Linked DNA regions of Homo sapiens. The protein of the gene in region 1 purifies or fractionates together with the protein of each later gene. This does not show direct contact. Each region holds a gene or a part of one and is shown in the gene's direction. Other genes may lie near its edges.

The links.
Region 2: the proteins of ICMT (region 1) and PCCA purify together in Homo sapiens (affinity purification with mass spectrometry; 2 studies listed by BioGRID and IntAct, with this or other methods). This does not show direct contact.
Region 3: the proteins of ICMT (region 1) and CLN6 purify together in Homo sapiens (co-immunoprecipitation; one large-scale study listed by IntAct). This does not show direct contact.
Region 4: the proteins of ICMT (region 1) and RELL1 purify together in Homo sapiens (affinity purification with mass spectrometry; one large-scale study listed by BioGRID and IntAct). This does not show direct contact.
Region 5: the proteins of ICMT (region 1) and PPM1E purify together in Homo sapiens (affinity purification with mass spectrometry; one large-scale study listed by BioGRID and IntAct). This does not show direct contact.

Annotation. Positions count from the first base shown.
Region 1 is NC_000001.11:6,227,834-6,233,827, reverse strand, and holds part of ICMT (protein-S-isoprenylcysteine O-methyltransferase), read left to right. Parts: intron 1-184; coding exon 185-354; intron 355-1,708; coding exon 1,709-1,926; intron 1,927-5,994. UniProt on the Homo sapiens protein: Catalyzes the post-translational methylation of isoprenylated C-terminal cysteine residues.
Region 2 is NC_000013.11:100,090,936-100,096,929, forward strand, and holds part of PCCA (propionyl-CoA carboxylase alpha chain, mitochondrial isoform a precursor), read left to right. Parts: intron 1-5,994. UniProt on the Homo sapiens protein: This is one of the 2 subunits of the biotin-dependent propionyl-CoA carboxylase (PCC), a mitochondrial enzyme involved in the catabolism of odd chain fatty acids, branched-chain amino acids isoleucine, threonine, methionine, and valine and other metabolites.
Region 3 is NC_000015.10:68,220,735-68,226,728, reverse strand, and holds part of CLN6 (ceroid-lipofuscinosis neuronal protein 6), read left to right. Parts: intron 1-5,994.
Region 4 is NC_000004.12:37,682,008-37,688,713, reverse strand, and holds the start of RELL1 (RELT-like protein 1 precursor), read left to right. Parts: upstream 1-2,337; 5' UTR 2,338-2,426; coding exon 2,427-2,514; intron 2,515-6,706. UniProt on the Homo sapiens protein: Induces activation of MAPK14/p38 cascade, when overexpressed. Induces apoptosis, when overexpressed.
Region 5 is NC_000017.11:58,982,854-58,988,173, forward strand, and holds the end of PPM1E (protein phosphatase 1E), read left to right. Parts: 3' UTR 1-64; coding exon of another isoform or gene 65-68; 3' UTR 69-2,326; downstream 2,327-5,320. Other genes in the region: E3 ubiquitin-protein ligase TRIM37, read right to left, coding at 5,136-5,214. UniProt on the Homo sapiens protein: Protein phosphatase that inactivates multifunctional CaM kinases such as CAMK4 and CAMK2. Dephosphorylates and inactivates PAK. May play a role in the inhibition of actin fiber stress breakdown and in morphological changes driven by TNK2/CDC42.

The DNA of each region.
Region 1 (5,994 bases):
CTTAAAAACTCCACTTTTTGCAAACCTGAGGTAGTAGATGCTGCAGATGGGTACCTGTGTCCACTCTCAGACAGGTGAGAACAGGGCCTCATAGACTTAGGGACAGCTCAGGAGACCCAGATGTGCACTTATGGTTAACTTGGTTCTCTTGTCCCAACTTAACTCTCTTTTTGTCTTTAAATAGGTACATGTGCTCCCTGTCATTGTTCCACTATTCTGAATACTTGGTGACAGCAGTCAATAATCCCAAAAGTCTGTCCTTGGATTCCTTTCTCCTGAATCACAGCCTGGAGTATACAGTAGCTGCTCTTTCTTCTTGGTTAGAGTTCACACTTGAAAATATCTTTTGGCCAGGTTCGTGTGCCTTATGTCCCCCTCTGGAGGGGAAAAGGGTGGCTCCCATTCAGGCTGAGGACAGTGACATTGATTCACCTTTCAGGTCTAATCTCCCCCAAGCGATTTTCCGCAGACCTCTATCCTCACTAAGCTATTTATAAAGGATGAGCTCCGCTCATGAATTCTGCCTCTGGATATTGACTCGAGGACGTGCTGACCTTTTGCTTTAAAGTTTGCATCACATAGTGCACCATCTAATTTGAAGCCCCAACCTTGAGTAGTTGTGATTCTAATTTTATAATCAGATGATATTTAGACGTTTCATGTAAGAGTTTACTGGCCGGGCACGGTGGCGAACGCCTGTAATCCCAGCACTTTGGGAGGTCGAGGCGGGTGGATCACAAGGTCAGGAGTTCGAGACCAGCCTGGCCAATATGGTGAAACCCCGTCTCTACTAAAAATACAAAAAAGCCAGGCGTAGTGGCACATGCCTGTAATCCCAGCTACTCGGGAGGCTGAGGCAGGAGAACTGCTTGAATCCGGGAGGCGGAGGTTGCAGTGAGCCGTGATCGCGCCACTGCACTCCAGCCTGGGTGACAGAGCGAGACTCCCATCTCAAAAAAAAAAAAAGAGTTTACTAACAAGGTCGGGTGCAGTGGCTCACGCCTTTAATCCCAGCACTTTGGGAGGCCGAGGTGGGTGGATCACATGAGGTCAGGAGTTTGAAACCAGCCTGACCAGCATGGTAAAACCCCGTCTCTACGAAAAATACAAAATTAGCCGGGCCTGGTAGTGCATGCCTGTAATTCTAGCTACTTGGGAGGCTGAGGCAGGAGAATTGCTTGAACCCAGGAGATGGAGGTTGCAGTGAGCTGAGATTGTGCCATTGCACTCCAGCCTGGGCAATGAGAGTGAAACTCCGTCTCAAAAAATAAAAGCCTCCGTATGTGGAATGCACTCTGAAATTGAATGTCTCACAGCCAATGAAATGAAATACATGTGGCTCCTGGGATTCAGGGTGGAAACCTTGGACCCTTTTTTGCTTCTCTTAGCTATACTTGTCCCCAGATGAAGGACTGAGCATGTGGCCGGGGGTCGTGAACCAGAGAGCCCATCAGCTGTAGCAGGAGAGCATCTCTTTACCATGATGCTTTCATTGTGCTTATTGGTGTTTTAAAGTAAATTGATGAACAGCATAACTTAGGGGAATGTGTTTTCTTATGAAATTTTAATGTGATGACAAATGCTGATTGCCCAGCAGCACATTTTCTGTTTCTGTCTTCGGGAAAATAGGTTAATTTTAAGCAGTGCGAAGGGGAGCTCAGGCCAGTGTTTTCACTCCCCGTGTGTCGTTGATGTCTCTCTCCCACAGAACTGAAGCAGATTACCTGGCTCAGTGTCACAGGGCTGCTGATGGTGGTCTTCGGAGAATGTCTGAGGAAGGCGGCCATGTTTACAGCTGGCTCCAATTTCAACCACGTGGTACAGAATGAAAAATCAGATACACATACTCTGGTGACCAGTGGAGTGTACGCTTGGTTTCGGCATCCTTCTTACGTCGGGTGGTTTTACTGGAGTATTGGAACTCAGGTATAATATTAAATATGACACTGCTTTTCTTTTTTTTTTTTTTAAGTAACATTTTAAACGTGATATTCACGTAGCATAAAAGTCACCATTTCAAAATATACAATTAGTGGTTTTCAGTGTATTCATGAGGTTGTTGGTCTCCTTTAAATAATAGGTACATGTTCTTCTTGGCGCGTTTCAAGTGATAATTTAATAAAAGTCAAGAGAACTAATGTAGTCCTTAATGCTTTTCACTATGTGCCCAGAACCTGGGTGCGTAAGTCCTTGGTGATTCTTGGTGCTGTTAGCTACCTGCTGTATCCCTTCATCCTGTTTCTGCCTCTGTTTGTTTGTTTTCTTTTTTCTTTTTTTTTTTTTGGTAGAGACAGGGTCTTACTGTGTTGCCTGGGCAGGTCTCAAACTCTTGGCCTTAAGTGATCCTCCCACCTCAGCCTCGCAAAGTGCTAGCATTATAGGCATGAGCCATTGTGCCTCTCCCTTTCTCTGCCCCTTCAACCTATTAATAGATCTGAAGCACCCCAGAGGGGGTGAGGACAGAGATGGGGCTTAGGGAAGGGAGTGCCCTCTGTCACTCATGTGGCAGCTTGGCTAGTTTTCATCAGAAATAGGTATTAATGGGGCCGAGGCCATGTGTTAGTGAGCTGTGTGAGCCATGGAGGTTTGTTCTGTCTCAGGCTGAAGAAAAGGCCTTGTTTCGTTTCTTTTCTTTTCTTTCTTTCTTTTTTTTTTTTGAGACCTAGTCTTGCTCTGTTGACCAGGCCAGAGTGCAGTGGTGCGATCTTGGTTCACTGCAACCTCTGCCTCCCAAGTAGCTGGAACTGTAGGCACGAACCACCATGCCTGACTACTTTTCGTATTTTTTTTGTAGAGACAGGGTTTCTCGAGTTGCCCAGAGCCATCTTGAACTACTGAGCTCAAGCAGTCTGCCTTCCTGGGCCTCTCAAAGTGCTGGGATTACAGGCTTGAGCTACAGTGCCTGGCCTTTTTTTTTTTTTTTTCCTTTTTGAGATGGAGTCTCACTCTGTTGCCCTGTTGCCCAGGCTGGAGTGCAGTGGCATGATCTCAGGTCACTGCAACCTCTGCCTCCCAGGTTCAAGCGATTCTCTTGCTTCAGCCTCCTGAGTAGCTGGGACTACAGGCGCCCGCCACCACACCCGGCTAATTGTTTGTATTTTTAGTAGAGATGAGGTTTGACTGTGTTAGCCAGGATGGTCTTGATCTCCTGACCTCATGATCTGCCCGCCTCGGCCTCCCAAAGTGCTGGGATTATAGGCATGAGCCACCGTGCCCAGCTTTTTTTTTTTTTTTTTTTTTTAAAGACAGGATCTTGCTGTGTTGCCCAGCCTGGAGTGCAGTGTTCTGATCATGGCTCACTGCAGCCTTGACCTCCTGAGCTCAAGTGATCCTCCTACCTCAGCCTCCCAAGTAGCTGGAATACATTACAGGTGTTGCCACCACGTCCGGCTAATTTTTAAATTTTTTGTAGAGGTGGTTCTCCTGGACGGTTGCCTGTAATCCCAGCACTTTGAGAGGCTGAAGTGGGTGGGTCACTTGACATCAGGAGTTTGAGACAAGCCTAGCCAACATGGCAAAACCCCATCTCTATTAAAAATACAAAAATTAGTTGGGCCTGGTGGCACATGCCTATAGTCTCAGCTACTCGGGAGGCTGAGACCTGAGAACCGCTTGAACCTGGGAGGTGGAGGTTGCAGTGAGCTGAGATTGTGCCACTGCACTCCAGCCTGGGTGATGGAGTGAGACTCTGTCTCAAAAAAAAAAGAGATGGTTCCTCCTTTGTTGCCCATGCTGGTCTTGAACTCCTGGGCTCAAGCCATCCTCCTACCTTGGCCTTCTAAAGTGCTGGGATTAGGCCAGGCATGGTGGTTCTTACTTATAATTCCAGCTAGTCGAGAGACTGAGGCACAATATTTGCTTGAACCTGGGAGGCAGAGGTTGCAGTGAGCTGAGATCACGCCACTGCACTCCAGCCAGGGTGACACAGCAAGAATCTGTCTCAAAAAGAAAAAAAGAAAAAGAAGTGTAAGGATTATAGGTGTGAGCCACTGCACCTGCTCTATGTGTGTGTGTGTGTGTGTGTGTGTGTGTGTGTGTGTGTGTATTTTTTTTATTTATGTATGGTTTTTTGTTTTGTTTTGAGGCAGGGTCTCTCACCCAGGCTATAGTGCATTGGCATGATCATGGTTTACTGCAGCCTCTACCTCTTGGGCTCAAGTGATCCTCCCACCTTAGTCTCCTAAGTATCTGCCCAGGCTGGAGTGCGGTGTCACAATCTCGGCTCATTGCAACCTCCGCCTCCCGGGTTTGAGTGATTCTCCTGCCTCAGCCTTCTAAGTAGCTGAAACTACAGATGTGTGTCATCACACCTGGCTAATTTTTGTATTTTTTAATTAATTTATTTTTTTGAGATGGAGTTTCACTCTTGTTGCCCAGGCTGGAGTGCAATCATGTGATCTCAGCTCACTGCAACCTCTGCCTCCCGGGTTCAAGCGATTCTCCTGCCTCAGCCTCCTGAGTAGCTGGGATTACAGGCATGCGCCACCATACCCGGCTAATTTTGTATTTTTAGTAGAGACGGGGTTTCTCCATGTTGGTCAGGCTGTTCTCGAACTCCCAACCTCAGGTGATCTGCCTGCCTTGGCCTCCCAAAGCGTTGGGATTACAGACATGAGCCACCATGCCCAGCCCCTGGCTAATTTTTGTATTTTTGTAGAGACGGGGTTTTTCCATGTTGCCTAGGCTGGCCTCGAACTCCTGCGGTTGAGTGATCTACCCGCCTCGGCCTCTCAAAGTGCTGGGATTACAGGCGTGAGCCACCACATGTATTTCTTTTTCTTTCTTTTTTTTTTTTGAGACAGAGTCTCACTTTGTCGCCCAGGCTGGAGTGCAGTGGTGCGATCTTGGCTCACTGCAACCTCCACCTCCCGGGTTCAAGTGAGTCTCCTGCCTCAGCCCCCGCGAGTAGCTGGGATTACAGTTGTGCACTACCTCGCCCAGCTAATTTTTTGTATTTTTAGTAGGTTTAGTAGGGGTTTCACTGTGTTGGCCAGGCGGTTCTCAAACTCCTGACCTCAGATGATCCACCCGCTTCAGCCTCCCAAAGTGCTGGGATTACAGGCGTGAGCCACTGCATCCAACCCGCATATTTCTTTTTTAAAATTACTATTTGGCTAGGCACAGTGGCTTTGGGAGACCAGAGCAGGAGGATTGCTTGAGGCCAGGAATTAGAAACCAGCTTGGCTGGCCGGGCATGGTGGCTCATGCCTGTAATCCCAGCACTTTGGGAGGCTGAGGCAGGCAGATCATGAGGTCAGGAGATCAAGACCATCCTGGCTAACACAGTGAAGCCTCATCTCTACTAAAAATACAAACAATTAGCCTGGTGTGGTGGCACGCATCTGTAGTCCCAGCTACTTGGGAGGCTGAGGCAGGAGAATGGCGTGAACCCGGGAGGCGGAGCTTGCAGTGAGCCGAGATCGCGCCACCGTACTCCAGCCTGGGCGACAGAGCGAGACTCCATCTCAAAAAAAAAAAAGAAAAAGAAACCAGCTTGGCCAACATAGTGAGAACCCTTCTCTCCAGAGGAAAAAACTAAAAATATATCTGGAAGTTGTAGTGTGCACCTGTAGTCCCAGCTACTCAGGAGGCTGAGGCAGGAGGATCGCTTTGATTGCTGCTGTACTCCAGTCTGGGCAACAGAGTGAGACCCTGTCTTAAAAACAGAAAACAAAATTATTTATTTGTGTATTAAAGATGAGATCTCGCTGTGTTGCCCAAGCTAGTCTCAAACTCCTGGGTTCCAGCAGACCTTCTGCTTTTGTCTCCTGAGTAGCTGGGACTATAAGTGTGCACCACCATGCCCAGCTAACTTTTTGTTTTTTGTAGAGATGGGGTCTTAGTGTTGCCCAGGCAGATTTTGAACTCCTGGGCTCAAGCAGTCCTCTCACTGCAGCCTCTCAAAATGCTGGGATTACAGGCATGATCCACCATGCCCAACCCAAAGCCTTATTTCTTTTTTTTTTCTTTTTGAGACAGAGTCTCGCTCTGTCG
Region 2 (5,994 bases), on another chromosome or scaffold:
TTGGAACTGAAAATTGAGACAAGTTTTGAAGGATGAAGTGACCTTTTCTAACAAACAGAGATGAATGTTATAGGTGAGAGAGCAGTGTATGCAAAGGTCCTGTGGCCAGAGGGAATGACAGGTTAGAAGAACTGAAAAAAGCCTACAGAGGCTCTGATGCAGAGAGTAGATGGTGTTGGGGAAGCTGGCAGGAGTCAGACCATCTGGCTCTTATAGATCACATTATGAGGTTTGGTGTTTGTCTTAGAGCAGTGGGAAGACATTGATGTTGGAGGTGGGAGGGATGACACTGACATTTTAGATTGGAGAGGCTGAGAGGAAGGCTGTTACTGTACTTACTGTTGTACACTTGTTATACACTTACTGTGTAATACATACGCTTTGATGATTCTTACCTGGTTTTTTCCTTTTAATGTGTTGGCAGAGACTGCATCTTGTCTATTTCTGTGTTCTTAGTACAATGTTTGACACAATAGGTGCTGAATGTGTAACAATAGAGTAGCATTATGTTTGTGCCGGTAAAGAATTCCTCCTTGGGGTGGGAAGCATCTCTGAAGTTCACTATCACTCTAGGGGAACTTGAGCTGCTGCTTAGCTTCTCTCTGCGCTTCTCTTCTATGAACTTGAAATATGCTCTACTGAGTCTGTTTGAAGCTGAATCTTTTGAAGATTTTAACCCCTCCCATCCCTCCCTCCACCTCTGCAAACCTTTTGGTTGGTTGAAAAGCAGCCAGCTAACTCTAGGGTCTAGTCTAGAGAATTCTGACCATTCTTTTAGCCAGTCAACAGAGTTTATTTATTTTTAGGGTATATGTAGAGTTCACCTTTTAGTCTTATTTGTTTTGTGTATCAGCTTTTTAAGCACATTCTGTTTTAATGCCTAGTTTTTTCTTCTGCGTAAATGTTTTCAGTGGCTCTAGGATGTTGGTTTTATGGTAATTGCTATAGTTATTATTGAACTCTTATATGCCTTGCATGATTTTTCTTTGCTTTTCTTTTTTTTTGAGATGGGGTCTCGCTCTGTTGCCAGGCTGGAGTGCAGTGGCGCGATCTCAGCTCACTGTAACCTCCACCTCCTGGGTTCAAGTGATTCCCTTGCCTCAGCCTCCCAAGTGGCTGGGACTACAGGCGCACGCCACCACCACCGGCTAATTTTTTTTTGTATTTTAGTAGAGATGGGGTTTCACCATGTTGGCCACCTCGATCTTCTGACCTCTTGATCCACTGCCTTGGCCTCCCAAAGTGCTTGGAATTACAGGCATGAGCCACCGAGCCCAATGGTGTGATTTTTCATATATCTTTTATCCTTATAACAACTAGGTAAAAAATCCCAATTTTACAGTAGAGGAAACAAAGCTCAGGGCAGTTAAGTAGTTGCTTAAAAGCACAATTGGCTGAAGTAGAATTTGAACCTTAGATAATATGATTCTGAAGGCTTTCTTTTCTTTCTTCCTTTTTTTTTTTTGAGATGGGGTCTGGCTCTGTTGGCCAGGCTGGAGTGCAGTGGCATGATCTTGGCCTACTGCAGCCTCTGCCTCCTGGGCTCAAGCCATCCTCCCATCTCAGCCTCCCAAGTAGGTGGGACCACAGGCACGTACGACCACACCTGGCTATTTTTTAATTTTAATTTTTATTTTTTGTAGAGATGGGGTTTTGCTATGTTGCCCAGGCTGGTCTCAAACTCCTGAACTCAAGCAATCCACCCACCTCAGCTTGCTTTTCTAATTACAAATTGTCTCATTTGAATCATGGTCTCATTGTGTGATGCATTCATGAAATTTGAATGTTTAAGCCCTGTGTTACTTGACATCCATTATTTTCTTTTGTAATCAGTAAATATGGAAAAGAATGTTTAGGCTTATATGAATGCTTTAGAATTGCCTGGAGGTTAATGTTTCCAACATGCTGATAAATTTCTGACAAATCATTTGGGAAAAGAAATTTCTGAGATTATTACAGAAACTAGTTTCTGGTGTAAAAAAATGTTTATAGACATTTATATATTTATACATCTACCATTTGGATTTTATTCTGTTCCTGAGAGGTTCAGAACAGAGGTAAAAACTGCTCTAGTCCTTTTCTAAGAGGAAAAGATGTGACATTTTTGATGAAGAGTGAGGGAAAAGGATTTGTTTAAATGATTCCAAACTTTAAAAAATGTAGGTGGGAGAACAAGGATGAAAAAGGAATTTGGGAAGAAACACTTTTTTGGTGGGGCTGGAAACATAGTGTTTCATTGTAGGTATCTGGAGTTAGATGCCCGCAGGAGCCATGCTGAGGTGCTGGGTATCAGTGGCTGGCTTTTGGGCCAGGGATACGAGGCTAGAGTTAGAGTTAGAACTGTGAGCCCTGACGGATATAGTGAGTCAGTTAATATTTAATTGAATAAATGCTTCGTTTTATAACCCTAAATTAGGATTTGGAAGAAGGAAGAAGAGACAAGAGGAGTTAGAGGTATGGTTTGAGAGGAGCCAATGTAGTGTAGTGTTACCAAACCTAGGAAAGAAATTTCAAGAAGTAGTTAGCATTCATTCATTCATTTGTCTAGAGATCTAGCTCTTTACTCAGAAAGTGTTTGTGGAGCATTTTCTAAGTTCCAGGTACTATGGCACGTACAGAGGAGAGAAAAAGAAATTAAAACATATTCCCTAACTATGTCCCAGGTGCAGAGAGGCTAAGGAATAAAAGATTGATGAGGCCAGGTGTGGTAGCTCACGCCTGCAATCTCAACCCTTTGGGAGGCCAAAGTGGGAGGATTTCTTGAGCTCAGGAGTTTGAGACCAGCCTAGGCAACATAATGATACCACCCCCACCCCCGGCTATCTCTACAAAATAAAATAAAATAAAATAAAAATTAGCTGGGTGTGGTGGCACGTGCCTGTGGTTCTAGGTACTTGGGAGGCTGAGGAGGGAGGATCACTTGAGCCCAGGAGGTCAAGGCTGCAGTGAGCTGTGATCACACCAATGTACTACAGCCTGGGTGACACAGCAAGACCCTGTCTCAAAAAAAAGTCTGGGCACGATGGCTCATGCCTGTAATCCCAGCACTTTGGGAGGCCGAGGCAGGCAGATCACCTGAGGTCGGGAGTTCAAGACCAGCCTGACCAACATGGAGAAATCCCGTCTCTACTAAAAATACAAAATTAGCCGGGCATGGTGGCGCATGCCTGTAATCTCAGCTACTTGGGAGGCTGAGGCAGGAGAATCACTTGAACCCAGGAGGTGGAGGTTGCAGTGAGCCGAGATTGCACCACTGCACTCCAGCCTGGGCAACAAGAGCGAAAATCTGTCTCAAAAAAAAAAAAAAAAAAAAAAGATTGGTGAAAGAATTTGAAAAGATCTTTGATCTTTAATGAGAATAATTTTAGTAGCATGGTAAAGTGTTATATACAAAAAATACTGCTTTTGACAACACTCTTGAATAGTTGAAGCAAAATTATATTTTTTGAAAGATAAGCATATTGCATAACTTTCAAAAATTAGTTTCTTTATTTTAAATGCCTATTGACATTTTCGTTAGAAAAAACCCCACAAACTGATGGGATCAACCTAATAAGATCAAAATAAAAGTGAATTTAAAGAATGTTGGAAGATACAGTTTTGTGATTTCATTCACAAAACCTAATACAGCATCCATGTGGCATACTCTCTTTGGTATTGTTTGTTTGTTTTTGAGATAGAGTCTCATGTTGTCCAGGCTGGAGTTCAGTGGTGTGATCTCCGCTCACGGCAACCTCCGCCTCCGGGGTTCAAGTGATTCTCCTGCCTCAGCCTCCTGAGTAGCTGGGATTACAGGCATGTGCCACCATGCCCAGCTAATTTTTATATTTTTAGTAGAGACGGGGTTTCACCATGTCGGCCTGGCTGGTCTTGAACTCTTGACCTCAATTGATCCGCCTGCCTCGGCCTCCCAAAGTGCTGGGATTACAGATGTGAGCCACCGTGCCTGCCCTCTCTTTGGTATTATTTATTCAAGAAACCTTTGGTTTCCTAGAGCTGCTGTACAAATGACCATGGACCTGGTGGCTTAAAACAACAAATTCATTCTCCCACAGTACTAAAGGCCTGAAGTCTGAAATCAAGGCATGAGCAGGGCCATGCTTCGCCTGAAGGCTCTAGGGGAGAATCCTTTCTTGCCTCTTTGAGCTTCTGGTGGCTGCATTCATTCCTTGGCTTGTGGCTGCATCACTCCAGTCTCTGCCTCTGTCTTCACATGGCTGCCTTCTCCTCCTCCTTCTTGTGCGTCTTTCCCTCTCATTCTTTTATAAAGACACTTTTCATTGGATTTAGGGCCATGACAAGATCTAGGATGATTTCATCTCAAGATCCTTCACTTTGTTGTATTGGCAAAGACACTTTATCACAGGTTCCAGGACGTGGACACATCATTTTAGGGGCTATCGTTCAATTCACCTACACGTAGTATGTGTCAGACACTACTTAGAGCTGGGAATATAATTGTGACTGTTTCTGCTCCCATTGTGGTTACATTTGAGTAAGGAGACTGTGCTCGTATAAATAGAAAAGTTCAGAGAGTGAGAAGTGCTCTCGAAGGAAAAAGATAGGTTAATGGGATAGAGAGTGGTAGTGGTGCTGAGTTGGGGATGTTACCTAATGAGACCATGGGGGACATTTCTGAGCATGTGGCATTTGGACAGGAAACTGAGCCAGCCAGCCATGTGACTATATGGGGGCCTAGCATTGCAGACCAAGGAGTGCCAGGGCAAAAGCTCTGAGGGGAGATTGCATTTGGCATAATTAAGGGATGAATGTGGCTGCTGTGGTTGGAGTGAACTGAATGAGGGGGTGATCTTAGGAGATGAGGGAGGAGGAGTGGGTAGGCGGGACAGAGTCATCAGGGGCTTGTATTTGGAATTTAGTAATGAGAGTCCAGTTGGAGGCATTTAAGCACATTGAATTTATGTTTGGAAAAGACGTTTGTGACTAGTACGTAGCGAATGTCTTAGTAGGGGTGGGAGTAGGATTGGGGACTGGGGTGGGAAGAGTGGAAACAGAGAGACCCATCAGGAAGCTGTTGTAGAAGACCAAGCTAGAGATGATGGTAACTTGTGCTAGGGCACTGGAGTTGCTGAGAACTGGTCAGACTTGGAATGTATTTTGGAGCTAGAGCCAGTATCTTGCTGTGGGGTTTGAAGGCAGATACAGATGTACCTCATATCTTGGCTTTATTGACCCTGCAGATACTGCTTTTTTTTTGTTGTTTTTACAGATTGAGGGTTTGTGGCAACCCTGCTTTGAGCAACTGTATTGGTGTCATCTTTCCAATAGCACATACTTACTTGGTGTCTCTGTGAAACATTTTGATAATTTTTTCATTATTACTATGTCTGTTATGGTGATCTGTGATCAGTGATCTTCGATATTCTTATTGTAAATATTTTGGGGTGCCGTGAACCACGCCCATATAAGTTGGAGAAACATAATTGATAAATGTGTGAGTTTTGACTTCTCCAAGCAGTTATTCCCCTATGTCTCTCCCTCTCCTCAGGCTTCCCTAATTCTCTGAGATACAACAATATTGAAATTAGGCCAATTAATAATCTTCTAAGCGTTCTAGTGAAAGGAAGAGTCACACATCTCTCACTTTGAATCAAAAACTAGAAATCATTAAGCTTAGTGAGGAAGGCCTGTCAAAAGCCAAGATAGACTGAAAGTTGGGCCTCTTGTGCCAAATTGTAAATGCAAAGGAAAAGTTCTGGAAGGAAATTAGAAGTGCTACTCCAGTGAGCGCACAACTGATTAAAAAAAGTGAAACAGCTTTATTGCTGATATGGCGAAAGCTTTAGTGGTTTGGATAGAAGATCAAACCAGCCACAACATTTCCTTAAGCCATAGCCTAATCCAGCGCAAGGTCCTCGCTTCAGTTCTGCGAAGGCTGAGAGAGGTGAGGATGCTGCAGAAGAAAACTTGGAAGCAGAGGTTGGTTCATGGGGTTTAAGAAAAGAAGTGAGGCCGGGCGCAGTGGTTCACACC
Region 3 (5,994 bases), on another chromosome or scaffold:
CTTTGGGAGGCCGAGATGGGCGGATCAGGAGGTCAGGAGTTCAAGACCAGCCTGACCAACATGGAGAAACCCTGTCTCTACTAAAAATACAAAAATTAGCCAGGCATGGTGTCATGCGCATGTAGTCCCAGCTACTCGGGAGGCTGAGGCAGGAGAATTACTTGAACTCAGGAGGCGGAGGTTGCGGTGGGCCAAGATCGCGCCATTATACTCCAGCCTGGGCAACAAGAGTGAGACTCCGTCTCAAAAAAGAAAAAAAAGGGATAGGATCTACTATTATCTCCATTTTACAAATGAGGACATTAAGGCCCAAGAAGTTAAGTGACTTGCTCAAGATCTGGTTAGTGGCAGAGCTGGGATATGAACCCAAACAGTCTCCAAAGTCCAGACTCTTTTTTTTTTTTTTTTTTGAGATGGAGTCTCACACTGTTACCCAGGCTGGAGTGCAGTGGCATGATCTCAGCTCACTGCAATCTCCGCCTCCCGGGTTCAAGCGATTCTCCTGCCTCAGCCTCCCAAGTAGCTGGGATTACAGGTGCTCGGCACCACGCCCAGCTAATTTTTTGTATTTTTAGTAGAGACGGCGTTTCACCATGTTGGCCAGGCTGGTCTCAAACTTCTGACTTTGTGATTCACCCGCCTCAGCCTCCCAAAGTGCTGGGATTACAGGCCTGAGCCACCGCGCCCAGCCAAGTCCACACTCTTAAAAACTACACTCAACTGCTATTTCTTGGTTTATTTTATTTTATTCTTTTTTTGAGATGGAGTTTCACTCTTGTCCCCTAGGCTAGAGTGCAGTGGTGCCATCTTGGCTCACTGCAACCTCCACCTCCAGAGTTCAAGCAATTCTGCCTCAGCCTCCCGAGTAGCTGGGATTACAGGTGCCCACCATCACGCCCATCTAATTTTTGTATTTTTAGTAGAGATGACGTTTCACCGTGTTGGCCAGGCTGGTCTCTAACTCCTGACCTCAGGTGATCCACCTGCCTTGGCCTCCCAAAGTACTGGGATTACAGGCATGAGCCACTGCGCCCAGCCTTTGATTCCTTTTAGAAAAAAGGAAAAATTTTAAAAATTAGCCATGTGTGACAGCACATGCCTTTCTGTGGTCCCAGCTACTCAGGAGGCTGAGATGGGAGGATTGCTTGAGCCTGGGAGGTCAAGGCTGCAATGAGCCATGACTGTGTCACTGCACTCCAGCCTGGGTGACAGAGCAAGACCTTGTCTCCAAAACTAAAATAAAAAGATGATATTAGTCCCCTACCCTAAACTTTAGCTTTCCTCACCCCTTCCTACAATTTCTGTCCTCTGTTTTCATGTTATCAAAGTAGACTATAATTATCTGCTGCTTTAAAACCGTAATTATCTTCCATGTTTTATCTGTGGATTGACTCTAAACATTGAAAATTAATATAAAATGTGTATGTTATTTAAGCCATGTATTTAATAAATATTGTTCCAACAGAGCCAAATAATGTTTAACAGTTACATTTGCTTTCTTATGTTACTTTTGTTTTTCTTGGAGTTTCTAGTTGCCTTTCTTTATTCTCTCATTATATTTGCCTTCATTTCCTTAGTTTTTTTTCTGTTCAAGCTTTTCATTGTCTTGTATGTCACCATTCTTTAAATAGAAGCAAAATTAGTCTCTCTGTGGTCCCCATTTGTGGGTTACCGCTTGACTTGTTCAGGATGAAACCCCTTCCTTTTCTGCCAGGCAGCCCTGCAGATGCTGCTGACTGCCTTGAGGATTTTAAGTGTATGGCATGCACTCCTCAACTGTCGTGGTGTCATTGTCCCCATATGGTAGACTTGGAAAGCTGGGAAGGAGAGAAGAGTCTAACCTTGTTTCAGGTTATCTGCCATTGTGCCATCACCATTGTTTTCAGCAGCATTTGCTAGTGATTGAGACCTAGCTGGCACAGGCTGGGGGCTCAGTGTGCTAAGTCTGTGGAGCCAGGAACTTGGGACAGGGTTGAGGTTGCTCATCCTCAGGACATGAGCTGGGGGAGAGGATGCCTTTACCATTCCATGATCTGCCTCCCGTGGGCAGAGTTCCAGGAGAAGAAAACCAGGCAGGTGCTGATTAATCTTTTTTTTTTTTTTTTTTTTTGAGACAGAGTCTTTTTGTATTGCCCAGGCAGTGCAGTGGTGCCATCTCAGCTCACTGCAACCTCTGCCTGTGAGGTTCAAGCAATTCTCATGCCTCAGCCTCCCCAGTAGCTGAGATTACAGGTGTGCACCACCATGCTGGGCTAATTTTTGTATTTTTAGTAGAGACGGAGTTTCGTCATGTTGGTCAGGCTGGTCTTGAATGCCTGGCCTCATGTGATCTGCCCAGCTCACCCTCCCAAACTGCTGGGATTACAGGCATGAGCCACTGTGCCCAGTCTAATCTTGATTTGCAAGCTGGTTGCTGAGTGTCCACTCTGTGTGCCTGCTTTTTTTTTTTTTTTTTTTTTTTTTGCAATAAGGTCTTACTCTGTCACCCAGGCTAAAGTGCAGTGGTACGGTCATAGCTCACTGCAGCCTTGACCTCCCAGGCTTAAGTGATCATCCTGTTTCTGCCTCCTGAGTAGCTGGAACTACAGATGTGTGCCACCATACCCAGTTAATTTTTAATTTTTAATTTTTAATTTTTTAGAGTTGTTTTTTGTTGTTGTTGTTGTTGTTGTTGTTTTCTTTTTGAGACAGTTTCACTCTTACTGCCCAGGCTGGAGTGCAATGGCGTGATCCTGGCTCACTGCAACCTCCGCCTCCCAGGTTTAAGTGATTGTCCTGCCTCAGCCTCCCAAGTAGCTGGGATTACAGGCGCACACCACCAAGCCTGGCTAATTTAGTATTTTTATATAGAGACAGGGTTTCACTGTGTTGGCCAGGCTGGTCTCGAACTCCTGACCTCAGGTGATCTGTACACCTCAGCCTCCCAAAATGCTGGGAGTACAGGCATGAGCCACTGGGCCCAGCCCCCCTCTTTTTTTTTTTTTCCTGTCCTACTAAGTTAGGCTGGACTAATGACAGGGATTCTCATTGACCAAGGTGCTTCCTGAGGTGGAGGAGGAGGTAGTCACTGAGCCTCTAGTGTATGCTGGGTACACATAACTTCCAGATACACACATCTAAGTGTTCATGCTTCCAAAATCCCTTTATTCCTCGTACCGAACATCCTACTTTTTGCCAAGTTTGGAGGTATCAGAGCAAGAAACTGAAGGCTGTTACCTCTTTCGCCACCCAAGTTCTCTGGGCCTGGAGGTTATCACTCTCTGCTTTTTGAGGCCTTACCCTGATGGCTACTGAGGAAGGAGCTGGGTGGGGCCTCTGTGTTGGTCACTCGTCTCAGACCACTGAGCAGTCCTCAGGGTTACTGGCTATCTGTCCAGTCTGAAGATCGAGCCGCCCGTCCCTTCTCTTTCTCTGGCTCCAGTAAGCCAGGCATCTCAGCTCCATGCAGAACCTTCTTCACTTCCACCTCCAGGCCTTTACCCTGCTTTCCTGCTTTTCTGCCTAGTTAGATTCATCCATCCGTGCTTTGAGGCTCCCTTCCCTCATGCAAGCTTTGTGTATTGCCCTAGGCCACGCTGATCCTTTTCTTTTTTTTTTTCAGTATTTATTGATCATTCTTGGGTGTTTCTCAGAGAGGGGGATGTGGCAGGGTCATAGGATAATAGTGGAGAGAAGGTCAGCAGATAAACACGTGAACAAAGGTCTCTGGTTTTCCTAGGCAGAGGACCCTGCAGCCTTCCTCAGTGTTTATGTCCCTGGGTACTTGAGATTAGGGAGTGGTGATGACTCTTAACGAGCATGCTGCCTTCAAGCATCTGTTTAACAAAGCACATCTTGCACCACCCTTAATCCATTTAACCCTGAGTGGACACAGCACATGTTTCAGAGAGCACGGGGTTGGGGGTAAGGTTATAGACTAACAGCATCCCAAGGCAGAAGAATTTTTCTTAGTACAGAACAAAATGGAGTCTCCTATGTCTACTTCTTTCTACACAGACACAGTAACAATCTGATCTCTCTTTCTTTTCCCCACATTTCCCCCTTTTCTTTTTGACAAAACTGCCATCGTCATCATGGCCCATTCTCAATGGTCGCTGTCTCTTCGGAGCTGTTGGGTACACCTCCCAGACCGGGCGGCCGGGCAGAGGCACTTCTCACTTCCCAGACGGGGCGGCTGGGCAGAGGCGCTCCTCACTTCCCAGACGGGGCGGCCAGGCAGAGGTGCTCCACACCTCCCAGACGGGGCGGCCGGGCAGAGGCGCTCCTCACCTCCCAGACGGGGCGGCCGGGCAGAGGCGCTCCTCACATCCCAGACGATGGGCAGCCGGGCAGAGACGCTCCTCACCTCCCAGACGGGGCGGCCGGGCAGAGGCGCTTCTCACCTCCCAGACAGACGATGGGCAGCCAGGCAGAGGCGCTCCTCACTTCCTAGACGGGGTGGCGGCCAGGCAGAGGTGCTCCTCACTTCCCAGATGGGGCGGCCAGGCAGAAGGGCTCCTAACCTCCCAGACGGGGCGGCTGGGCAGAGGTGCTCCTCACCTCCCAGATGGGGCGGCCGGGCAGAGGGGCTCCTCACCTCCCAGACGGGGCGGCCGGGCAGAAGGGCTCCTCACATCCCAGACGGGGCGGCCGGGCAGAGGGGCTCCTTACTTCCCAGACGGGGTGGCCGGGCAGAGGCGCTCCTCACATCCCAGACGATGGGCAGCCGGGCAGAGGCGCTTCTCACCTCCCAGACAGGGCAGCCGGGCAGAGGGGCTCCTCACTTCCCAGACGGGGCAGCTGGGCAGAGGCGCTCCTCACTTCCCAGACGGGGCGGCCGGGCAGAGGCGCTCCTCACATCCCAGACGATGGGCAGCCAGGCAGAGGCGCTCCTCACTTCCTAGACGGGGCAGCTGGGCAGAGGCGCTCCTCACTTCCCAGACGGGGCGGCCGGGCAGAGGCGCTCCTCACATCCCAGACGATGGGCAGCTGGGCAGAGGCGCTTCTCACCTCCCAGATGGGGTGGCCGGGCAGAGGGGCTCCTCACATCCCAGACGATGGGCGGCCAGGCAGAGACGCTCCTCACTTCCTAGATGGGGTGGCGGCCGGGCAGAGCCTGTAATCTTAGCACTTTTGGAGGCCAAGGCAGGCGGCTGGGAGGTGGAGGTTGTAGCGAGCCGAGATCACGCCACTGCACTCCAGCCTGGGCAACATTGAGCATTGAGTGAGCGAGACTCCGTCTGCAATCCCAGCACCTCGGGAGGCCGAGGCGGGCAGATCACTCGAGGTCAAGAGCTGGAGACCAGCCTGGTCAACACGGCGAAACCCCGTCTCCACCAAAAATACAAAAACCAGTCAGGTGTGGCGGCGTGTGCCTGCGATCCCAGGCACTCGGCAGGCCGAGGCAGGAGAATCACGGGAGCCCGAGGCAGGGAGGTTGCAGGGAGCTGAGATCACGGCAGTACAGTCCAGCCTCAGCAACAGAGGGAGAAGGAAGAAGCGAGGGAGAGGGGGAGGGTTGGGGGAGGGGGGAGGGAGATCCCTTTCTAACCTGATCTCCTGATAAGCCTAGTAATCAAAAACAGAATAGCAAGCTGTTGGCCAGACATGGTGGCTCACAGCTGTAATCCCAGCACTATGGATGGCTGATGTGGGTTGATTATTGAGCCCAGGAATTTGAGGCCAGCCTGGGCAACATAGTGAGACCTCATCTCTACAAAAAATAATAATAATAATAATAATAATAATAAAATAAAATTAGCTGGGCATAGTGGCATGCACCTGTGGTCCCAGTTACTCAGGAGACTGAGGTGGAAGGAATGCTTGAGCCTGGGAGGCCAAGGCTGCAGTGAGCTGTGATCACACCACTGTACTCCAGCCTAGGTGACCCTGTCTCCAAAAAACAAAACAAAAAAACAGAATAGCAAGCTATTAAGAGCACAGGTCTTGAATTAACATAAACCCAGGTTTGAATTGTGTGTGTTATTCAGGACGACTGGGTTGCAAGTGACAGAA
Region 4 (6,706 bases), on another chromosome or scaffold:
ATCCCGTCTTTCTTTTTTTTTTTTCTTTTTTTCTTTTGAGACGGAGTCTCGCTCTGTTGCCCAGGCTGCAGTGCAGTGGCACAATCTCGGCTCACTGCAAGTTCCGCCTCCCGGGTTCACGCCATTCTCCTGCCTCAGCCTCCCGAGTAGCTGGGACTACAGGCGCCCGCCACCACGCCTGGCTACTTTTTTGTATTTTTAGTACAGATGGGGTTTCACCGTGTTAGCCAGGATGGTCTACGATCTCCTGACCTCGTGATCTGCCTGCTTCGGCCTCCCAAAGTGCTGGGATTACAGGCTTGAGCTACTGCGCCCAGCCAAAAACGATCCCATCTTTTTAATACTAAGTCCAATCTGTGGGAAAAGAGTGAAACATGATTCAATTTTGAAATGACATTTTACATTTTGATTAGATTTCTTGATTCAAGCATTTTGTTACATTCTAACTTACAAAACCAGAGCTGGCTTTATAAGTGTGTGACCTGTGCAACTGTGTGTTTAGGAGGGCTCCACAATCGATTTAATGTTGTGTTGTTGCCATCTTGAAATTCTTAACGATTTTTGAACAGAAGGCCCTGCCTTTTCATTTTGCATTGTGCCCTGCAAATTTTATAGCTGGTTCTGGCTACAACTTCTAATTTATAGTTTAATTTCTAGGTCCGGGATTCTCTCCTGTTTTAGTTAGAAATCCACATGGATCGCTTTCCTCCGCACACATTCTCAATGTTTATGTTGATATAAAACTAGCAAAGGCTGCCTGCTAAGACTGCCAGACTGTAGGATGCGCTGCCAACTGAGCGCAGGACGCGCAGTGCCCTCCTTGGGCTTCAAAGGGCAGGGGCTCCATCCTTCAGCCTCAGCCATCTGTACTGTAGTGGCCTGAGCTTCTGTCACTGGCAATTCCCACATCAATGCAATGTTTGTAATAATAGTCCAGCAGACTGCGTGGAGGACTCGGTGAGAGAATAAATAGTCCTCTGAAAACTAGAGGTTATCAGTCACCTCAAGGATGAGACCCATCCTGTGAAAACCCACAGCCTCCATGCACCCCCTCTTCTTGCTGGTGTTGAGTATTTGCTCAAGTCCTGCCCTAATTTCCTTCAAGCAAATGCTTGATGGCCCAGTAACAACAGTCTCTACAGGGCAGTAAAAAGGAACTATTCAGAGAGAGCCTCTGAGTCCTATTAATGCTTGTGAAGATGATTCAACTTCAGAAAACACTTCTGACCTCTTAGCGTGTGCTGTCTGTCCTCCATCCAGGCGCTGAGGGCACAGCAGCGAGCAAACACAATGACAATGAGATAATTACAATTTATCATGGTGGCCCAGACATCGTGGGTTTACTCCCTGGCCTCTAATAGTCACCTCGCAGAGCTGATGTGAGGATGTGAGGAGATAATAAGCGTCTGGGCATTGAAAGACCTACTTTGCGGGAGTATGCGCAAGGTGCAATACAAGCACACGATTAAAAAAAAAAGGCAAGTTGTTCCTGAAAATGCATAGAGGTATTTTCCCCAATAGGAGCAGCTTAAATGCAAACAAACAGAGGAAGAAATTTAAGTTATCTTTTCTGCTAATTTCCAAACAACAGAACGTGACATCCAGCACAGCATCACTCCCTAGATCTGCAACCGAGGGGAATGCTAGTGGATAGACATGCCAACAGCGAAAAAAGCCTGTGCTCACTCCAGTGCTGGCCGCTTCTGACTGTCCAGTGCTTCTCGGGGCGCGCTCCCTCTTTCTCTTCCCACGCCCGCCTAGTCCCAGCGACCGAGGGAGGTTGCACCCGGGCGACCCTCCCCCCGCCCCGGGCTCCCGCGTAATCCCGGCCCGGCTTGGAAAGGAAGCGGGCCTGGCAAGTAGAGGCACGGCCGGGCCACGGTGGGCAGGGCGCAAGGGCGGGGCTATAGCCTAACTGCGCCGCCAAGGCTGCTGCTGGGTTTGGAAAGGAAGCGGGAGAGGAGGGGTCGGGCTGAGCTGTGGGTGGGGAAAAGGGCGGGGCCATGGATGGGCCACGTGCCTTCTTAGGTGGAGTCCGGGGCTCGGTAGGGAGAGGCGGGGCCAAGCTGAGGTGGGTGGAGAAAGAGGGCGTGTCCATGGCCTAGCTACGCCGCTGAGGCTGCTGCGGGGTTTGGAAAGGAAGCGGGAATGGCAGGGAGAGGCGGGATCAGGCTGAGGTGGGCGGGGAGTCGGGGGCGGAGCCATGAGTGGACCTCGTGCCGGCTTAGGTGGAGCCCGGGGCGCGCGGGGAGAGGCGGGACCGAGCCGAGGTGGGTGTGGCGTGGGGCGGGGCAATGGCGGGGCGGGGTTCGCCGCTCCCTGGGGCCCAGCCCAGCCACTCGATCAGCCCGCCGGCTCCGGAGCGGCTCTGCCTTCCCGAGCGCGGGACGCGGCGCCCTGGGGGAGGAGGGCGAAGCGACGCGGCGATGGCTCCGCGGGCACTCCCGGGGTCCGCCGTCCTAGCCGCTGCTGTCTTCGTGGGAGGCGCCGTGAGTTCGCCGCTGGTGGCTCCGGGTGAGTGTCCGGTCGTAGCCGGGGCGCCGGGTGCTGAGCCCGGTCCCGGGAGCGCGGAAGGAAGCGAGGGGTCGGGACGGCAGCCCCGCGGCGTCCTGCTTTCTGGCACAGCCGCGGGATCCCGGCACTGAACAACTGGCTGTCCCGCGGCGGTCCGGGCAGGGCGCGGTGCGTGGCAACGGCTCCCGTCCCTCCCCTCCCGCGGGCCCCGCTCCCGCCTTCCCTCCCTGGGGCCTCCTCCGAGGATCTGTGTTCCCCAGCGCTGGGCAGTGCGGGGCGTAGGGACCAGGCCTTCTTCGGGGGCGCTTCCTCCACGGCCGCTCGCCTCGGAACCCCGCGGACCCGTTTCCCGCCGCCCTTGTCCTCAAAGGCGCCGCGAGCGGAAGATCGTGACACAGAGCACCGGGTGCGCTGTCGGCGCCTCCTTCTCCCTTTTAAATACCTTAAAATATCCTAAAACCTGGAGGACTTTGAATCTCTTTCCACGTTTCCATTTATTTGGGTGGTTGATGGATTCTTGTAACAGGTCAAGGAGTCCACATTTCTTCCCATATATCCTGTATAAATCAGGCTCGGAAAAAGGGAAGGCGCGTTGGTAAACTTACATTTTTTTCTTCTTTTTGTTGATTCCTGTCGTCACGAAAGGAACCTTGTGTGGTCAGGGCAGGAAGCCACCAACAGAGATGCTAAAGTGTCACCAACGATGAAGCAGTTTTTAATTGAAATCAATCTTAAGAGGAGGTGTAAGTTTTATGGAAGTCCTATGTCACATCCTTGCTTTTATAATTACAGACACTAGGGATTCCTTACCACCGCTTCCCCTCTTAATTGCCACCTAACAGCTGCAGTTAAAAAAAAAACATACTTACTTGGCCATTTGGGGTTACTACAGCTGGGAATCTGACGTCAGCAAGCTCTTCCAAGCTTGATTTCAGCGGTGGTTCCTCCTCAGGCCCAAATAATAAGCAACTGGAAGCCTTTCAACAGTGACTGTCTCCTCCATAAACATCCATAAACTCTTCCTCCTGAGAACATTTCAGTCGCTTACAACTTTTACACTGACTTAGCAGTTTGGCCTTCACTTTTTCATAGAAACCAGAGCAGGTTGGAAGGGAAGGAGATGGATAATATTGTCTCCTGAGTCTTTTTAGCAGGCCCGTATTTCCGTTAGCCATCCACCTGGGGAAATGGCAGCTAGTGACATGTTTTACTGGATGGGACAATTTTTTTTTTCTTTTCCTTATTTTGATACAGGGGCTCATTTTGTCACCCAGACTGGAGTGCAGTGGCACAACCTCGGCTCACTGCAACCTCCAGCTCTCTGGTTCAAGTGATTCTCCTGCCTCAGCCTTCTGAGCAGCTGGGATTACAGGCATGTGCCACCATGCCCGGCTAATTTTTGTATTTTTAGTAGAGATGGGGTTTTGCCATATTGGCCAGGCTGGTCTCGAACTCCCGACCTCAAGTGATCCTCCTGCCTCGGCCTCCCAAAGTGCTGGTATTACAGGCATGAGCCACCATGCCCTGCTGGTTCATTTTGATTTTCATCCTGCGTTTGATTGCTGGGACACATAGGTGCATAATCAGGTTCCACTTGGATGTGAGGTTGGAGACATTCATTAGAGGGTTAGAGTCAGTTGCAACAGAATCTGGGGAAGAGTTTAATCTGGGAGTAAAATTATTAAAAATTCAGCACATGATGCATGTAATTAGCCATCATCAGCAGGAGAAATCCATCCCTAGAGTGGGTGTGTGTTTGGTTTGACCTCTGAGCAACACCCAGGTCTCAGGACTAGAATGTGACTGATGAAAGCTCTCATCTAATTGCATGACAGCCTTTTTTTTTTTTTGATGAAAATTAATGCGGAAGAAGAAACAGGTGTCTAAAAAGGAAAGGATACAGAGCACAAATTTGCCAGTATCTTGAGGCGTGTGTAAAGAGAAGATGCTCTGACCAGCCAACATCTGATCCCCTTGCAACCAAAGATGGTGTTAATGTTTGTACCTTGAGCATAGGGAAGTAGAGGGAAAGGAATGGGAAATACTGTTGAGTGCCTGCTGTGTGCCAGGCTTTGGGTTGAGTACTTTGTATGCATTTTTATTTTTATTTATTTTTTTCTTTTTGAGACGGAGTCTTGCTCTGTCGCCCAGGCTGGAGTGCAGTGGCGCGATCTCACTGCAAGCTCCGCCTCCCGGGTTCACGCCATTCTCCTGCCTCAGCCTCCAGAGTAGCTGGGACTACAGGCGCCCGCCACCATGCCTGGCTAATTTTTTATATTTTTAGTAGAGACGGGGTTTCACCGTGTTAGCCAGGATGGTCTCCATCTCCTGACCTCGTGATCCGCCCACCTTGGCCTCCCAAAGTGCTGGGATTACAGGCGTGAGCCACCGCGCCCGGCCGCATTTTTATTTGTTTATTTATTTTTATTTTTATTGTTTTTTGAGACAGAGTCTTGCTCTGACTCCCAGGCTGAGGTGCAGTGGTGCGATCTCAGCTCACTACAACCTCCACCTCCCAGGCTCAAGCAATTCTCCTGCCTCAGCCTCCCTAGTAGCTGGGATTATAGGCGCCCGCCACCATGCCTGGCAAATTTTTGTATTTTTTAGTAGAATCGGGGCTTCCCCATGTTGGCTATGCTGGTTTGTAACTCCTGACCTCAAGTGATCCGCCCTTCTCGACCTCCCAAAGTGCAGGGATTACAGGTGTGAGCCACCGCGCCCAGCCTTCATAGGCATTTTTAAACTCATTGCTCATAACCCTGTGAAATACTTACTTCCAGTAAGGCAACTGAGGCAAGAGAGGTTAAACAACTGGCTGAACATCACATAGGTACTGTGCCAGTCAGCATTCAGAGAAGCAGAACCACTAGGAGGTGTCTGTGTATGTGTGTACCTTTATATGTATCTTTATCTGGGATAACCCAGCCTGCTTGATTCCAAAGTTCATTCCCTTTCCACTGTACCCCACTGCTCTGCAGAGGAAAAATAGAATATGAGTCAACCTCTGCAATCTCGCTGAGATTCTAAGATAGTTTAGAACGTCATAAAATTGTAAGCATGTGGTTATCAGAAGTTGTCAAGTAGAGAAAAGAAGGGCAGATAGCTTCACGGTGGGTAGTGGCAATGCCTTTTTCACTTCCTTCCTAGTAGAAGAATCTCATTAAACTTGTCTCTTAGCAGCAGCATTCGAAACTATATACCACAAGCACCCAAAGGGATGATTTTCCACGTCTTGGCTTATTAATGTCCTTAAGTTCTCTGGTTACTCAACCTTCAGGTTTATTAGTTTCTCTCTCAGACAGTGGGCATAGCCCTCGAGTAAGGAGTGGGTGGAAGAGGTCCTGGGGCTGGTGAGATGAAAAATGCATTGTCCTTGGGCTGCAGGCTTCCCTCCAGCATTCTGACTCCTTTTTAGAAACTAAAGATAAGCTTTATTAAATTCTGGGGTCTCTCTTAGCCAGGTAGCTGCGAAGCTGTACATCCACATAATATATAGTGTTTGGAAAGTTTTGAAAAAGCACACCTTGGAGCTTGGGAGTCCATATCTACATTTAATTTTAAAAGGAAATGAAAAATGTGAGAAGTCTCTGTCAATTCCCTGCCCCTACCCCCTCTAAAAATGGAAATGAAATGAATCTATTTGGAAATTTGAAGAGTTGAATTTGAATGTGAGAGACCAAAGCCCCAAGTGAACAAACAACAGATTTTATTGTTTCTTTAAAAATGATTCTTTGGCCCTAATGTTGAAGTTTAATGACTTATTGAAACAATAGAGAAATGATTTAAAGCTGACAAAAAGAATAAATTAAATTGTCATTGGTATAAACTATTAGGTTGAGTGGTTCCTAATAATTTCGGACACTTAAGTGGTTGTAAAGATTTGGTGTGCTGCTGAAAGCGGGTATATTAATAATTCTGGTGTGATTTATAAAAACTAAAATCAGAATTTGGTGTTAGTACACTGTAGACACTTTACTCTTTTAGGAAAAAGGAATTCAATTTTTATTATTACCTGGTTTGTGTGCAGGCGGTAGTCTAAATACCTAGATCATTTCATTCTTACAATTAATTTCCTGTCAGTTATATACATAATTTTATTCCTGTGTTTGTAGATGAGGAAATTGAGCCTCAGAGAAGTTGAAAAAGTCACTCATGTGTAAGCTGGATTTTGTCATGGAGTCCATTGAGTCAG
Region 5 (5,320 bases), on another chromosome or scaffold:
TCTGTCACCTTCTGAAGCCTAGATCTTGTTAACCCATCAGGTGCAGTGTCAGTTTCAAATCAAATTATCTAAGAAAACAAGAAAACAAAGGCAGCAGACTATTGGTACACATTATAGTCCAAAGTGCTTAGCGAAGTAAAAAAAAAAGCTTTTTAAAATTTCTATTGTTGTCTATTGGTAATGTTTTTGATCAGAATAAAGAGGGTAAAGGGAAAAAGTTACTACACATGCTAGGCTTTCTCAGTGGGGAAAAAAATGGCTGGATAGAACTGGGACAAACACAGACCCATCTTTAGGGGTCTGGATTTTGTAGGTCCGACTACACAGCAGTGTTAACTCATTTCTCATGCCATTAGCTCTCTACAAAATAAAGCAAAGTAGTTCTAGTGTGGTCGTTATAAACCAATATTGTGAAAAATAGCAACTATTCATTTGTTCACAACATGCGTATTTATAGAGTAGTTAGGTACCATTTGTAAGGTAAATCCTTTAAAATTCTATAATACATACTAAAATAGTGGTTATTGGTCTGATATATGCTGCTCTTGGTTCTATAAACTAGATAAAAGCAGTGCTTTGTGAAATGCAGTGTTCTCTCTTAACGCCACTGGTGATAGGAAGTAGTTCCCTTCAGTTCAAATCCTGTGCCCTTATTTGCTGCTTGCTGACGTAAGCAATAAGTAACCCTCTAACTAATGGTATCTACATATTTCTGTAACTTGTATTTAATGATGGTGTACCTGGTGATTGTAAAAATATTAGACAGATATAAAAGTATCTATATAATATCTATAAACTGTTAATGCTGAGGTATAGTCTGTGAATTATGTGTTTTGTATTTTTATTCATTGTGTAATTTAGTGGTGGTGAAAGTTCTACACTCAATCCTTAAAGAGTGGCAGTATCCCTTTTTCAATTTAACATGGTCTGCATCAATCTGTTTGCCTGCTAAACAAGTTAGAATAGGAAATAGTAAAATAAATCCAAACAAGAGTGTAATATTGGTTAGGGAAACAAACTTCAGGTCACCAACTGAAGTCATTACAAACTCCTTGTACATTCACTGTGAGTTTCAAAGGGAGTCAGTCCCTAATTTACAGGTTTCCTTTGTTCACTTTCTAGATGTGTACTTTTGAGGGACATGAGGTTAGGCAACATTACAGCAACACACACTGGGGCTATTAATCCCATTTAGGTCTGTACTAAAGAGGATGGGTAGAAACACATATGTATATACCTTTTCTTTACCTAGAAGTGCCATCCATTGTCCTTGAATTATTATGATTAAAGTTACTGTTGCATTTAGGAGGCTCCTTGAAAGTAACACCTTTTCCAAGGACAATGGCAACAATGTCAATGTCAACACTGAGTCTAATTTTGACCACATTTATAGTGGTATAGTGTCAATACTGCATTTTCATGACAACCACACTCCACTGTTGAAACACTGTGCCAGTGAGAAGTGCAACATCCAGTGGGCAGATGAAAATGATGCATGGCCAAGTTCAGTGTTTACAGATAAAACTGCTGTGGTTCAAGTGCTTCCTTCCCCATCAAATCCTTGATAAGGCTTTGTGGGAAAATGATCTAAATTATTGTTTTAATTTTTAAACCTAATTTATTCACTCAGTGAACATTCTTACCTAAGCAAGGCTATAAAAGGGAATACTACAGTTTTGTCCACACTTTAATTTGAGACCATTTTTCTTTGAATCGTAAGTTAGCAAAAGAAATTTTTTTCACCTTTGAAAATCACGTGATGTTAAAGGACAAATGCCCACTCTTCTATTCTGATCTGCAAATAGCTTAAATGTCTCTTGCAAAACAAAGTAAGATACCACCAGTATTACAACACAATGATTTTCCAGACAAATGGTATGGTGTTGAAAAATAACTGTTACTTCTTAAAGCAGCATTTTATCTTCTATTTTGAAGACTATTTATTGTAATAATTAGAAAACATGAAATAGGGAACTCCAGACTGACACAGCAGTTGTTTTTGAAAAGGAAATAAACTTTGATGAATTAGATAATCCAGATACATCATTGTAAACTCTTACTCTAGGTGCTCTTTGGTGAGAGACAGGCTTTGTTCTCTTGTTCATAACATTTCTCTGCAAAGAATTCTCTATGGAGTGAAGCGAATGAAGTGAATAATTTCTTACCAAATAAATTTATCAATTTACAAATCTGCTCTACATCTCACTTTTGAGTTCAGTTGTAGTCATGAGTGATCCTTCATATTTTATTAAAAGTGTTCATTCAGGTAAGGTGTATGTTGAAATTTTGCCAATTATCTTAATAAAACCTGGCAATTTAAAAACCACTAGTCATTTGTCTTTTTATTTAAAGGAAAGGTAAGTTATTTACTGTTTAAATTTGTGCAGATTTCTTCAGAACTGGAAAATAAAATCCTGAGATGGACGTTAAGTTTGGAAGCTTGGAACATTTAAAAAGAAGATTTGCTAAATGCTGCTGTAACATTATTTTACCCCAGAAGAGAGGTATTTAGCCTTATACATGTTCTCTTCATTAGCTGAACTGCGAGGAGAGGGAGTGGTGTTATAATCCTAAAAGAAAAGAGGAACCCGACCTGCCAAGGACTAAGCGGTGGTCATCAAATCTCCCAACTACTTCATTCTTAGAACTCTGCATCTAACCAAGCTTTCCCCTTTCGCTTAGCCTCTTTGAGTTTCAAGCTAGAAGAAAGTAAGGAAATCATCAGATGAGCTGTGGTGGAAAGCCTCCCAAGGACTGCTGATAAGTGAGTAAAAGGAGACAGAGACAAAAAGGACAATGTGGGGGAGGGAAGTCACTTACGACACCTGCATCTGAAGGGAGGGAACTGACCTTCCAAACGAGTCAACCTTGTCAATACACTGCACTGTTCTCCTGCCTACCAGTAAAGAAGGCCTTTACAATTAATTTTACATAGTTTCAAAAATCTTCAACTCCTAATTCCCTAAATTCATTCAGTCCTTGGCATGACTTTATATAGAACCAAATGAACAATTGAGAAAAAAAAGGTGAAGTTTTGAAAGAAGGACATATTTGAAGGGGTTTACTGAAGCAGGGAATGACAGAAAAGGAACATTTTGATTAGTAAGTGTTACACTTGAAAAAATTCCCTAAAATATAGTATTACTTAGATCAAAAGGAACACCTCTTTCTGAAGGAGCAGCACACAGCAAGACAGAAGGGAACCACTAGGTACAGTAAAATCATTTGAACATCATAGAAATTTACCCAAGTTACCAAATTATCAGAAACAACTGTCTGTACTGACAAGCTGCATAACTGAGCATTCCCCCCCACACCCGCCCCCTGTTGCTGTCAGTGTGCATCATTTCCTTTCCTTCTTTTGAGATGGAGTTTCATTCTGTCACCCAGGCCGGAGTGCAGTGACGTGATCTTGGCTCACCACAACCTCTGCCTCCCAGGTTCAAGCGATTTTCCTGCCTCAATCTCCCAAGTAGCTGGGATTACAGGCGCCCGCCACCACACCCAGCTCATTTTATTATTATTAGTGGAGGTGGGGTTTCACCATGTTGGCCAGGCTGGTCTCGAACTCCTGACCTCAGATGATCCACCCTCCCACCTCGGCCTCCCTAAGTGCATCATTTTCTTTTTGATTGCAAGTTTCCATCTGTCTTTTTTTTTTTTTTTTTTCTTTTTTGAGACAAGAGTCCTGCTGTGTCACCCTGGCTGGAGTGCAGTGGTGCAATCTCGGCTCACTGCAACCTCTGCCTCCCAGGTTCAAGCAATTCTTGTGCCTCAGCCTCCCAGGATGCTGGGATTACAGGCGTCGGCCACCACGCCTGGCTTTTGTGTTTTTAGTAGAGACGGGGTTTTGCCATGTTGGCCAGACTGGTCTTGAACACCTGACCTCAAGTGATCTGCCTGCCTTGGCCTCCCCAAGTGCTGGGATTTACAGGTGTGAGACACCACGCCCAGCCCCATCTGTCATCTTAACAGCAATTAGTAAAGAACACTTTTTCTATTGTGCTTTAGGGAACCTCCTTTTGCTTGGCCTAGGAATAACCTTATGGAAGATCCCTTACTTACATTTAAAACAAGTCACATTCTTTTCTGAGAGCCCCAACTGTTGAATATGTTTAGTAAGAAGCGCTCTTCCCTGGGCAGTTGGTTGAGCCTGCCTCTTATGCTGAGCTGTAGGATGCTGCCCCAGTCACGCAACCTCCAGATGAAGTGTGTCCTCTCCTCATTGTGCAAACAAGGGCCCTCACACACAGGTTCTATTTGATTTTTATAATCTTGCTTTAGGACCAGGGAAACAAATGTGAAAAACTGTCAAGAATGATACACATTTGGGGAAACCATTTTCCAAATGAGTAACTGGAGTTTAACTAAAGATGATGAAAAAGTTGTCCCTGCTAGTCATTACATTGAGTAGTATGACAGCTACAGGATTAGGGGTGGCCAATTAAGCCAAATCGAGTTGCTACGGGTTCACTAGGTCAAATGAAACCCAGTGGGAGGTGAGCCTATGCAGCAGCCTTTCCCAAATGCACACCAGGAGACACTGACTGACCTGAAGGTCTCGGGCAAGGACTCTGGCCCGCAGGGTCTGCAGAGCAGGAATGGAAGGGAGACTCCCGGTCAACATGCCAGCCAGAGAAAAGGATTTTAGAAAGAGAGCAGCCCGTACTACTGATGTCCCAAACTACACTGTGGCTAATCTTACCATTTGCTCTTAAGCATCCCTAAGCAGAGTTCTAAAACTTCTATAAATCTAGACTATGAAGGCATGTATTGGTAGATGTGAGAATGAGAGGTAGAATGAGGAGAAATCTAAAAATATTACCACATAAAAATTCAAATGAATATGCAAAAAAGAAAATAGCTCTTGGGGTTTTCTATTTCCCAAATTTTTCTAATCTTATCACCTTTATAATTCAAACATTTAAAAAACTAGATAAAAAAATTAAAAATGGCTCATTTTCTGAATTCTGGTTTTAGGATTAATTACACTCATGTTTTACATTCAATAAAATGTGTGTTTTACATATATACATTTTTAAATCACAGCACTTCCAGCTTCCACTCCGGGATGTAGGGGTAGAAGGAGCATTTCTTCTACTCTTACAATGCAAACGAGCCAGATGAACTATAAATTAGGACATTTTTTCGAATCCATTGGAAAGCTGAGGTTGCAGAGTAACCAAGTGGCACCAAATGGAGAGGGGCAGTTGCCTGCAAGGGGAGAGAAGACATTAGCACTAGTTTCGTAGGGTCGTTGTAAACAGACACTGGAAAGAATAGGCTAGCTAAAAGTGATGATTGGTGAAGGCAGAATATG